4 separate regions of the Homo sapiens genome follow, and regions 2, 3 and 4 are each reported to be linked to region 1. The links are microRNA targets in miRTarBase. Many come from high-throughput screens and were not tested one by one. Region 1 holds a microRNA gene; each other region holds the end of a gene's coding sequence. Distances are from middle to middle.
The links. Region 1 holds the annotated microRNA hsa-miR-665 (ACCAGGAGGCUGAGGCCCCU, at 2,089-2,108, shown strand). A microRNA usually pairs through its seed, bases 2 to 8, with sites in the 3' UTR of a target mRNA and lowers its output. Matches are read on the target gene's strand: a 7mer-m8 pairs with bases 2 to 8, a 7mer-A1 pairs with bases 2 to 7 and ends in A, and an 8mer does both.

Region 1 (3,109 bases):
CTTCCCACACACGTCACACTGAGCCCCTTTTCTGTCTCACATTCCACCTCTCCTTCACTCATGTGTCATGAGGAGCCTTTTCCCTACTAATGTGTCACCTGAGCTTCTCTCACATGTCACTTGAAGTCCTCCCCTTCCCATGCATCACCCAGAGACCTTCCCCCCACTCATGCATTGCCCTGAGCCCCTCCCTTACTTATGTGACATGGAGCCCCTCTCCACACCCATGTGTCACACCAACCCTCTCTCCACTGATGTGTCACACCAACCCCCTCTCCACCCATGCGTCACATGGAGCTCTTCCCCCACCCGTGTGTCACACCAGCCCCCTCCTCCACCCATGTGTCACACTAACCCCCCCCACCCATGTGTCACACCAGCCCCCTCCTCCACCCATGGGTCACACCAACCCCCTCCTCCACCCATGTGTCCCATGGAGCTCTTCCCCCACCCGTGTGTCACACCAGCCCCCTCCTCCACCCATGTGTTACAGGGAGCCCCTCCTCCCTCCATGTGTCTGTCAATCTGAGCCCCTTTTCCATTCATGTGTCACTCTGAGCCTCTTTCCCACCTCCATACCCTCCTGCCACCCCTACTTCTTAATCTTTAACCCCTTTCCCTAAAGGTTTCCCTCCATGGGCTCTTTCAGAGAATGTTATATTATCAGGTCATTTACTCACAGATATTTTTGCACCACCTACCACGTGCCTGGCTGCGTGTCCCTGTGCATGTGTGTTGGTGGTGTGGATGGCTGGAGAGTGTAGGACGAGGCAGGCAGTATGGTGGTTGAGAAAGATGTCAAAGAACAAAGGAAGGTGTTTTGGGGTACAACTTTATTGAGATGTAATCCACATACACACAATCCGCCCATTAAAGCTCACAGCGAAGTGTGTTTTAGTTATTCACAGATATCTGCAACTATCACCATAATCAATTTAAGATCATTTTCATCACCCCCAAAAGAACTCCAGAGCCTTCAGCTGTCACCTTCACCCTCCATGCACACCCCCCAGCCCTCAGCAACCAAAAATCTACTTTCTGTCTCTGGGAAATTCTTGAAGTGCCCCTGGACTTCATGAGTCCTCACTGGGTCCCCAGAGGTGCCTGTTGCAACCCATTTCACAGATGTAGAAGGCAAGGCTGGAGAAGTACCAGGGAGTCAAAGCAGTGGGTGGGTGGGGTCGAGTCCCCGATGTCCACTCACAGACCTGGGCCAGAATCAGGCCTGTCTCCCCCTTCACCTCCCCATCCTCCGTCCCTTGGCCTGGCTGCACAGTCACCTGGGGGCTCTGTGGGGCTAAGGGAGGCCCAGGCCCTGGCCATAGGAGGCAGGTAGGGCAAGGCTGGGCAGGGTGGACAGGTACCCCAGCGCTGCAGGTGCCCAGCAGTGGGTGGCACTGCCTAGGCTGGCTGTCCCTTGCTGTCACTGCTCTAACCACTAGCAGCAGGCGTCCCCTCTGCCATCCGAGCGCTTGCACTGCGCTTCCGGGAGGAGGGTTGCGGCCCGTAGTCAGTAGTTGGGGGGTGGGAACGGCTTCATACAGGAGTTGATGCACAGTTATCCAGCTCCTATATGATGCCTTTCTTCATCCCCTTCAACCACGCGCAGCCCCCGGACCCTCCTCTGCACCCTTGGCTGCACGGGGACGCGTCCTCAAGTCCGCTGCTGTCCTGCCAGCCTCTTCCCGGCATGCTCCTTGGGCTCTTCTCTCTCTCTTCTGCAGCTCTCTGACTTCCTGGAGGGGAGGGCCTGGGGCTGGGCCATCTCTGAGGCCCCTCCTTGGCAGGGAACTATGCCCCTGGTGGGACACCCCCTGGGCTGACTCCACAGCCAAGGGCAGATAGGCCGGAGGGGGAGTTGGGTAGCCCTGGGGCTTCTCCCACTGAGGGGCTGGGGCTGTGCTCCCACACAGAGCCCTCCAAAGGGACCCGGCCCACAGGATGGATGGACAGACGTTGGAGAGATGGTGCCCCTTTGTGCCCAGGGTGGAGGGGGTGGGGCTTTGGCGGACCAGGGCTGGCCCTTTCTGTGCCCCAAGAGGAGGGTCTCCTCGAGGGGTCTCTGCCTCTACCCAGGACTCTTTCATGACCAGGAGGCTGAGGCCCCTCACAGGCGGCTTCTTACTCTCTCCTTAAACCTGTTCTGGAGACATTTCCCCTCTCCCCAAGGATTCCCAACTCTGGGTCCCCAGAAGCTGTCAGCTGGGCTCCCTTCTTCCCCTGTGCGTACCCTGCTCAGGCTGGGTACCTGAGGGTGCCCAATGGCAACATGAGCAGGGGGCACGGCCGTGGCCCCTGGTTCTTGGACCTCTGTCTTCTGCCTCTCTGACTAACTCAGGTCCTGTGCATGGCAGAGGTGACCCGCACCAAGCCCTGTGATATTGGCATCATTAACCCCATTAACAAGCCACGACAGCCAGCCCAGGCATGAGCATCGGGGCAGCAGGGCAGCCAGTGTGGGGAGAGAGGCCTTGCAGTAGCTGAGGCCATTAGAGAGGACAAGAGGGTGCAGGAGGGAGCATCCTCACCTCTGCCCTTCCCACTTACATCCCATCTCCCCTTCCTCACCCCTCCTTCCCCATGCACCCCTTCTTCCTGTAGGAGGGAGCACCCTCACCTCTGCCCTTCCCACTCACCTCCCATCTTCCCTTTCTCACCCCTCCTCCCCAATGCACCCCCTCCCTTCCTGCAGGAGGGAGCACCCTCTCCCCTGCCCTTCCTTCCCACCTCCCGTCTCCCCTTCCTCACCCCCGCTTCCCCCATGCACCCGCTCCCTTCCTGGTCTACCCCTCAGCTTCTGTGGTGTCAGGATGGGTATGCTTGTCTTTGTTGATCTCAGACAGGTGGACAGGGGTCTGGACGAGGCTTACTGTTTGGGTCTGAGGTCAGTGCTCATGGGCTTGGGGCATGACAAGGGTCTTGTCGTCCCCGCAGCAGGGCTCTGAGCGGGTGGGTGGAGCTTGGGAGTGGGGGTGATGGCTTCTATTTGTTGTCTTTCTCTTTTTCACTTTGGGAGCAACCGGGGTCACCAGGTGGGCAGGAGGGGACCTCACGTCTCTGCCCTGGGCAGATTGTTAAGAGCTGGTCAAGCTCCTGGCACGGGGGCCTG
Region 2 (3,000 bases), not on the chromosome of region 1:
TTGGGCATGGAACTCTACCTTCACTGAGAGTTCTACCAGTGACTTCCAAATGCAAGATACTCAGTGGGAGAGGCTGGTGGCCTCGGTTCCTGCTTTGTACTCTGATGCCTATGACATATTCCAAATCATAGAACTGTACAATCTTCCTGATGAGAATGAGATATCCAGCTCTTCTTTCCACTGTCTGTATCAGTATCTCTCACCCACAAAGTACCAGGTAGGAGGACAGGGTTCCTCTCTCAGCATCTTTGCTGGTCCAGCTGTAGGCCTATCTCCTGCACAAACCTGGCCCAATATGACAAGCCAAGCCTTTGAAGCCTACAGTCTAACAGATAGCCTGGAATTCCAGAAAACCTCCAATATGGTAGACTTGGGATTTCTCTGACCAGAGTACTAATAAATATAGATCATTTAGAAAAGTGGTCTTCTTGCCTCTTGTACATGACTGTTTTTTTCCTTTGTCTCATTTTAACCCAACATCTGGGTCTGTGTCTCTGATTTCCATGTAAATGTTGCAAAAAGAGTTTTCCAAGTAGAGCTGGGCACTACGTAATCAGCCCCACAAGTCTCCCTGAGAAGCCTGCCTAGTCCCTTTCATGGCCAATGAGACTCCAAAATTCCCTTCCCAAAACTATCTTGGATTTTCTAAAAGTAGGACAGTGGTTTTGGGGGTTATCCACTTTTATTTTTTTGAAACTAGCTCTCATTCTGTCACCCAGGCTGGAATACAGTGGTACAGTCACGGCTCACAAAAGCCTTGACCTCCTGGGCTCAGGTGATCCTCCCACCTCAGCCTCCTGAGTAGCTAGGACTACAGATGCTCGCCACCACACCTGGCTAATTTTTTTTTTTTGAGACTGAGTCTCGCACTGTCACCCAGGGTGGAGTGCAGTGGCGGGATCTCAGCTCAGTGCAACCTCCACCTCCTGGGGTTCAAGTGATTCTCCTGTGTCAGCCTCCTGAGTAGCTGGGATTACAGGCGTGTGCCACCATGCCTGGCTAACTTTTGTATTTTTAGTAGAGACGGGGTTTCACCACGTTGCCCAGGCTGGTCTTGAACTCCTGACCTCCAGTGATCCGCCTGCCTTGACCTCCCAAAGTGCTGGGATTACAGACATGAGCCACCGAGCCTGGCCAATTTTTGTGTTTTTTGTAGAGACGAGGTTTTGCCATGTTGCCCAGGCTGGTCTCCAACTCCTGGACTTAACGCCATCCACCTGCCACAGCCTCCCAAAGTGCTAGGAATACAGGAGTGCACCATCGCACCCGGCTGGGTTATCTAGTTTAAAAACACTTTTTTTCAAGGAAACCGAAGAAACCATCATCCACTTTTCTCTCTGTATCATTCTGATTTTAGTATATGTGTTGTGGAAGTGAGTACACTATCATCCACTTTTAATGACAGAAAGTTATAAACTTACATTTTGTTTCCAATTTTTCATTTTTTGTTTGTTATTTGTTTTTTGTAGACAGCACTCTGTCACCCAGGCTGGAGTGCAGTGGCACCATCTTGGCTCACTGCAGCCTCTGCCTCCTGGGCTCAAACAGTCCTCCCACCTCAGCCTTCTGAGTAGCTGAGACTACAGACATGCGCCACCATGTCTGGCTAATTTTTGTATTTTTAGTGGAGATGGGGTTTCGCCTTGTTGCCCAGGCTGAATTTGGGTTTTTTTAAAATGAGACTTTCAGTCCTAATTTGAGGGGAAATTACTGTCACCACTAGTTTTAATATAGTACAATGAAAAAATAATATATATATATATAGTACAATGGTCCAGACATAATAAGAGGTGTAAAAACTATCACAGGAAGAAATAAAAACAGATTTTTGAAGGTGAGATGATAAACTTGCAAAACTCACAAAATAAAGAGTCAAACTTTTAGAATGACAAGTTAGCATATTTTCCAGCCACATGATCAACCTACAAAATTAATACCATTTCTGAACACCAGTAATAAAGAAACATAAGGGCTGGGGGTGGTGGCTCATGCCTGTAATCCCAGCACTTTGGGAGGCCGAGGCGGGCGGATCACGAGGTCAGGAGATTGAGACCAGCCTGACTAACATGGTGAAATCCCGTCTCTACTAAAAATACAAAAAAAAAAAAAAAAAAAAGCCAGGCATGGTGGCACACACCTGTAATCCCAGCTACTCGGGAGGCTGAGGAAGGAGAATTGCTTGAACCTGGGAGGTGGAGGTTGCAGTGAGCTGAGGTCGCACCACTGCACTCCAGCCTGGACAACAGAGCAAGACTCTGTCTCAAAAAAAAAATAAAAAATAAAAAATAAAAAATAAAAGAAACATAAGATAAGTACCTCTCAATGAAAAATGTAAAAGTACCTAGAAATTCACAAAAAAATTAATACCTCTGTGGAGAAAACTTCAAAACTTAAAAAAGGACATAGAAAATGTTTTGAATAGGCCAGGCGCAGTGGCTCACACCTGTAATCCCAGCACGTTGGGAGGCCAAGGCGGGCAGATCACGAGGTCAAGAGATCAAGACCATCCTGGCCAACATGGTGAAATCCTGCCTCTACTAAAAATACAAAAAAAAAAAAAAATTAGCTGGGCATGGTGGCACACACCTGTAGTCCCAGCTACTTGGGAGGCTGAGGCAGGAGAATCACAAGGATTGAAACTATGCAGTGTGTTCTCCAAACATGATGGAACGAAATTAGAAATCAATAAAATTTGGGAAATTCACAAATATGTGGATATTAAACAACACATTCCTAAATAACCAGTGGTTAAAGAGGTAATCACAGTCTGAGCAACATGGCAAAACCCTGTGTCTACAAAAAATAAAAAATTAGCTGGGCATGACGGCCAGAGCCCATGGTCCCAGCTACTCGAGAGGCTGAGGTAAGAGCATCCCTTGAGCCACAGAGGTCGAGGCTGCAGTGAGCTGTGACTGTGCCACTGCACTCCAGCTTGAGCAACACAGTGATACTGTCTCAATAAATAAATAAATAGAAGAAATCATGAGTAAAATTGGAAAA
Region 3 (3,091 bases), 78 Mb from region 1:
AGGATTTTGCTATGCTTTGGGCCCATAATTCCCAGCTGAGCAGGTGGTCCTAGGTTGTTAATATGGTCTGCAGTACACAGTTTCTGCTGAGACTGCTTTTTTGTCTTTGCTTTTGTCATAATTTTGAAATACTAAGCTCTCTGCAGTAGAGTCTTCCTCCAATCATGACAGCCCTAAGAAATAATTTTCCATGATTTGGTATCTCCCTGAGCCTAGAAAACATCCTTGAAATGTTTGCTGTGTCCCCTTCCTAAGTACACACCATGACTCATCTAGAAAAAAAGAACTTCAGAAATCTAGAGTAAGCAATCAGAAGACATGACCTTTCCAGAAGGCTCTATCAGGAAGCCCAAGGGTTACTCATATTTGCAAGCGTGAGAAGGTCAATGTTGGTGGGTCAGTTTTCTACCTGCATTCAAGGTTATCCACTGGTAACAGTTCATTTTAACTAGCAATAGCTGTTATCCATTGCTCAGATAACTCATCTGCTGTCCCTGCTCCCAGATGGTACAGCTGCTCTCTTCTCTGGATTTTTGCAGCACTTTGTTCAAACCTATAGCGAGGCCCTAAATGGGCTGTATTTTAACTGTTATGTTTACGTATTCTCCCCTACTAGACTGTACATGTCTTGAAGGCAGAAGCCACACTTTTGGGTTTTTTTTTTTAATTGAGATAGGGTCTTGCTATGTTGCCCATGCTGGTCTCAAATTCTTGAGCTCAAGCAATCGCCCACCTCGCCTTCCGAAAGTGCTGGGATTATAGGCATGAACCACCACGCCCAGCCAACAATATTGTTTATATTCCCAACAACAAGACATTGGCTGGCACATAGAAGGGGAGGGAGGAAGGGAGGAAGAGGATAACTCAAGTCTTAATCAGGTGTCTAATGAGTTAAATTGTATTAAAATAACAGAACAAAGTGGTTCTTAAAAGTTTTTCACTGTTGGGAGGCCAAGGCGGGCGGATCACCAGGTCAGGAGATCGAGATCATCCTAACACGGTGAAACTCCGTCTCTACTAAAAATACAAAAAATTAGCCGGGCGTGGTGGCGGGCGCCTGTAGTCCCAGCTACTCGGGAGGCTGAGGCAGGAGAATGGCATGAACTCGGGAGGCGGAGTCTGCAGTGAGCCGAGATCGCACCACTGCACTCCAGCCTGGGTAACAGAGCGAGACTCCATCTCAAAAAAAAAAAAAAAAAAACAGAAAAGAAAAAAAAAAAGTTTTTCACTGAAATAAACCTCACTGTCAACTTACCACTACCAAAATGATACCTTACCTGAACTAACAGAACTGTTTTTGAGGCAGTATCAAAGGAAAGGATTTAGGTAACATATTATAAGTAAATGACTAATTCATGTCAGAAAAGGAAGTATAGTCACTTCCACATTATTGCATCCACTTTGCACATAGATGCTCTAACTCTTATACTAGATTTCTGCTGGTTAGTATAAAAATGACAGCTTTCCAAGTGGTGACAGGAAGAGGTTGGTCCTAGGATATCCTTCCCCCAAATAGGATGAGATCTCCTAAGGTTCTCTTTTCTCTACCACCCAGAACATTACATTTTGCAATGCAAAGGCAAAGATTGCATGCATTCATCAGTAAGCTACATGGGATACCGGAAGGAGTACGGGGCCAAGAACACCGCTAGACTAGGGCACTTCACTGCAAACACTTAACTATGTGGCCAGGGAAGGCCAATGGATTGTTCTAGGCCTCTGTTGTCTCATATATAAAGTAACAGTGTTGACATACGGTATGGAAAACAGCCATATATTTATTAAAGCTTTAGAACTCTGCTTGGGAGGGAGCGATTTAGGGGAGGGCGTACCATATGTGATGAAGGCCAAGCAGAGAGGGCTTTTCAATTTCTGTCCATCAAAAAAAACTCCAATTCTACTTCTGCTTTATATACCAAGATTCTTTTTGTAAGAGTTTGTTTGGGAGAAGGGAGAAAGAACTCTACTGCTAAAAAAGTGAAAATGGCAAATGAACCAAGCAGCATCCCATCTTATATTTTAAAGTCTTCTCCCAAGTTAACCCAATTTCCCCATTTATTTCTACTTTAAGGCACATATTAGCAAATGCCCACAGTCATTCATCCAACATACACTGGATGCTATCAAATTTAAGTGCTATGAAAACAATGGTCCAGCATTAAAAGTCATCTGAGATCAAAATCAGAAAAAAATTAACTAACAAATCTAAAGGCAAAACCTACCATTTATGTCTCTTCCAAAATCTCCGAGTTATTTTCGTGGAGTTATTGGTACAGAAATTATTGTACTAGCTACAAACATTAATTTTCTATTACCTTAATGATTTGAAGAACAGAAAGACAAGGCAATGACCAAGAGCAGTAGCACTGATGAATTATGATGATATTAATGCATACTTTGCAGACCAATGGAAAATTCTGCAAATGTCAATAGCAGTATGGGAGCCTGGCCAACCATGATCAAAACCAGTCCCATCCAATTTCTCTTCCTAAAATCAACATTATAGGACAAGGACTATGATCATCACTTACATTCTTTTAGTCTCCTACTCCTCAATTAAGTAAATGAGAATGATTCAGCCAACAAAGTTCATGACAACAAGGTGCAGGATGGTGCTGGCAAAGAGAAAATCAGCAAAGGCTCGCTCTGGGGAGATGCCTTGGAAATCCGCTTTGTTCTGTGGGTTGATCTGTATTCTCAGGCAAACTGCACAAGAAGCAAAACACAAAAAAATGATTATATAGAAGTATAAAATAAATATGCTAATGAACACAGACATACCCGAGGACCCAACAATTCTACTCTAACAGAAATGAATGCATATATACATCAAAGGGCATACACAGAAATGATACCCAGATAGCCCCAAACTGGAAACAATCTAATGTCTATCAACAGTAAAATGGATAAATTATAGCATATACAAACAATAGAATATTATACTGCAATGAAAAAGAACTTCTGCTATACACAAAAATGGATGAATTGCACAAGTAAGTTGGGCAACACAATCAAAAACTTTATTTTTTGGGGAGTCGGGGACAGAGTCTCGCTCCGTCACCCAGGCTGGAATGCAGTGGCATGATCTCGG
Region 4 (3,092 bases), not on the chromosome of region 1:
TGTTACTCATTCTTCATCAAGCTTGCCCTCAGCTGCCTTTGCCCCTCTTACCCCCAGGTCTGCTGATGTTTGCTGTGACCCACATGTTCTACGCCTCGGCCTTTGGCATGCAGCCACTGGCTCTTCGGACAGGTCTGGTGATGGCAGCGCTGTCGGGCCTGTGCTATGCCCTCCTCTACCCATGCCTCTCAGGTGCCTTCACCTACCTGGTGGGGGTCTATGTGGCCCTTATCGGCTTCATGGGCTGGCGAGCTATGGCAGGGCTGCGGCTGGCCGGGGCAGACTGGCGCTGGACAGAGCTGGCAGCTGGCAGTGGTGCACTCTTCTTTATCATCTCAGACCTGACCATCGCCCTCAACAAATTCTGTTTTCCTGTGCCCTACTCTCGGGCGCTTATCATGTCCACCTACTATGTGGCCCAGATGCTCGTCGCCTTGTCAGCTGTCGAAAGCCGGGAGCCTGTGGAACACTACAGACTGACCAAGGCCAACTGAGGTGCCAGGGTCTGGTCACCCCTCTCTCCTCCTGGGGCTGGGGCCCAGATCCTGGGGACCTGCAGGAGCTGGATCAGGATGGCTGCAGTGCCAGCCTGGGGCAGCAGGTACTGCCTGAGGAATTTGCAAGTTCGTGTGGGGAGGCTGGAAAAGGATCTCCCTAGCAGAACTCGTGGTTCAGGACAATGCTGAGAGCTAAAAGAGCCAGCCTAATATCAGACTGGAGCCAGAAGTAGACATCTCCCCACCTCTACCCTATCAGGACTTTCAAAACCCCCCTGGAAGGTGATGGTGCTCAGCTTCTTGACACCCCCCCACCCACTTCCCCTACCAGGTGGAAGAGTCTGACTCCATGTGTTATGCCTAGGACCAATGGCAGTGCTGGGTTCACCCACTCCTCCCCTTTTTCATCTGCACAAAGTTGAGGGAAACGGGAGAATCTGTGCTGAGAAGACTCAGACCCAGGAGCCCCTTTCACAGGCCCCTAGTTGGGAAGACTGGATGAGAGTGGAGCCTCCGTTTCTTTTCCCTCTTCTATCCTTGTTACTTGAACAATCTCAGTCTCTAAGTGGTGGGTGGGGACATGAAGAGGTGTGGGTCCAGGTTAGGCAGGAGAGAGAACTTCTTTGGTCTCGGAGTTTGGGGTCTCAAGAATTCAAGTAGCCCCATCTCTCTCTCGGGCAAGCCCAAAGCTCAGGTCCCATACGCTACCCTTAGATCCTATCCCCAGGGCTAGGGTGAACCATGCCAAAGGAAGGGGCCAGCTTCTCTGTGTGTGTGTGTAGCCTGTCTCCTAGTCTGCCTATGTCTTTCTCTGCTATATGTTTCTGTCCTGCTGTCTGTCAAAAGTCTCACAGAGAGAGGGCCTCAGGGAGCTGCTGAGGGGTGCTGAGCCTGGCTCAGGGAGCTGGGACCCCTCCCCTCCAACACACATACTCACAGTGCTTTCCTCCTTGTCCCTCCTACACTAGGAGCAAGAGGAGGGGGCTCCAATGACACTCCGGGGTTTTAAGACCCAAGGCACATTCAATGCAAGGGGAGCAAGGATGGGACAACTCCATCTTCTGCTGCCCATGTGAAAAATAATAAAAATCAAGAGCCATTGGCTGCCCTGCTTGTGGGCCTGTGTGGCACATGCCTATCTTGGAGAGGGCATGGGGGCATGGTGCCAGAGGCTCTGGCTGTCCTCACAGCCTAGTCACAGTCCTGGGCAGTGCATCTTGGTGCCAGGCTGGCTACCTGGCTCTGGTGACACTGTGCCGGTTGGAGTGTGTCTCACTTCCCTGGTGTGGGTGAGGATGTGGTTTAGGAGGATGGGGGATGAGTGGTATTTGCCACTGTCCAAATTTGTCCTTGATGTACTCCCCTGTGCACAGGTGCCCAGCACCCTTGGTGACCTTTAGTTACCCAGTGTCATCTATTGCTGCCCACCTCCTCCCCTCCCCACTTGAGACCTGCTGCTTCCTTCAAAATGATCCAGATTCCCTTCAAGCATCTCCCTCATCCTGGACTCTGGGCTTAGTTGAACAGCTGGGAGCAATGGGATTAGATTGGCTGATTCATTCATTAGTTGTAAAGCCCTGGCAGAATAATACATCACTCTGCTCCAGGAGCATTTGTAACTTAACAGACAATGCCCTAACCCAGAAGTAGAAAGGGAAGCCTTGGGTGGTGGTGGATATGCCATCAGTAGAGGTGTTGCTCATTTGTGGGGATGTGATTTAGGAGACTCAAGTCTCAGGGGTGGTTGGATGAGTCAGTGATTTCCAAATTAGTTTTTACAGAGATTCCTGGTAAGGGGGTAGTGAAGGAATAATGAGAGAAGGCAGGCTCAAAGACCTCCTATCCTTATTTCAAGTCCAGTAGCTTCTTAGGTTGTGTTTTTTTTTGTTTTGTTTTGTTTTGGAAGGATTCCACTGAAAAACGTAAGTTTGAAACTTAGTGAGCTGGATGATCAATCCCTTCTAGCTCTGAACCCTGGACACTAAAGAGGGAAGATCTTGATCCTTTCAAACTTCAGAACTCTGAACACAGACCTACCTAGTGTGAAGAAATGGGAGGGAGCAGGATGGAGAGCAGGATGAAGTCAGCAGGACTTGCCCCCAAGCTCTGAGGGGAGGGGGAAAGTGCCATGTAGATGTGGAGGAGGGGAAGGGAAGACCAGGCCCAGTCACAAGAAGGCTGGTCACTGCCTTGTGGGTGGGTTTGGACTAGGCTTTCAGGGGTCCAGGTCTGGGATTCCCTATCATGCAATCACATCCATCCCCTTGGTCCCTGCTGTATATCACCCTCAGGAACGGGAAAGGATGAGTTACGTTTATTGCCCCATCCCTTCACTGAATGTTTACATTAACAAACACCAGAGAGCAAACTGGGCTTCCTACACTGGGCCATGCAGAGGACAGGCCAAGAAACTCCACATCATAACAGCCTCCTGATGCCTGGGCTTGGCTGGAGCTCACATGAGGTGCTTTGATTTCTTCTGCAGACTCTCGGTGATGGATGCTACAACTGACTTATCATCTTTGTCTGAAAGAGCAAAGGAAGTATTCGTTATATTAATGATGCTGGCGACCAGGGAAATTCCAAACTGCTGGA

Region 2: miRTarBase lists ARGFX as a target of hsa-miR-665. Seed matches in the 3' UTR shown: 7mer-m8 at 763-769, 7mer-m8 at 924-930, 8mer at 1,195-1,202 and 7mer-m8 at 1,532-1,538.
Region 3: the mRNA of DAD1 is a reported target of hsa-miR-665. The part of its 3' UTR that is shown has no 7-base or 8-base seed match.
Region 4: the mRNA of TMEM86A is a reported target of hsa-miR-665. Seed matches in the 3' UTR shown: 7mer-m8 at 523-529 and 7mer-A1 at 1,998-2,004.

The regions. Positions count from the first base shown.
Region 1 is chr14:100,872,987-100,876,095 of GRCh38, forward strand. It overlaps MIR665 (microRNA 665), which reads left to right and starts at 2,047; the gene lies at 2,047-2,118. It overlaps MIR337 (microRNA 337), which reads left to right and starts at 1,507; the gene lies at 1,507-1,599. RefSeq lists an enhancer at 686-855.
Region 2 is chr3:121,586,216-121,589,215 of GRCh38, forward strand. It overlaps ARGFX (arginine-fifty homeobox), which reads left to right. Exons shown (of 5, transcript NM_001012659.2): 5 at 1-3,000. The coding sequence ends at 385. Among named protein-coding and RNA genes, the nearest start is that of FBXO40, 5.7 kb to the right of the region's middle.
Region 3 is chr14:22,572,528-22,575,618 of GRCh38, forward strand. DAD1 (defender against cell death 1) reads right to left here. Exons shown (of 3, transcript NM_001344.4): 2 at 2,532-2,706. The coding sequence ends at 2,576. Among named protein-coding and RNA genes, the nearest start is that of DAD1, 15 kb to the right of the region's middle.
Region 4 is chr11:18,701,516-18,704,607 of GRCh38, forward strand. It overlaps TMEM86A (transmembrane protein 86A), which reads left to right. Exons shown (of 3, transcript NM_153347.3): 3 at 58-3,092. The coding sequence ends at 494. IGSF22 (immunoglobulin superfamily member 22) reads right to left here. Exons shown (of 23, transcript NM_173588.4): 23 at 2,797-3,023. The coding sequence ends at 2,953. Among named protein-coding and RNA genes, the nearest start is that of IGSF22-AS1, 3.4 kb to the right of the region's middle.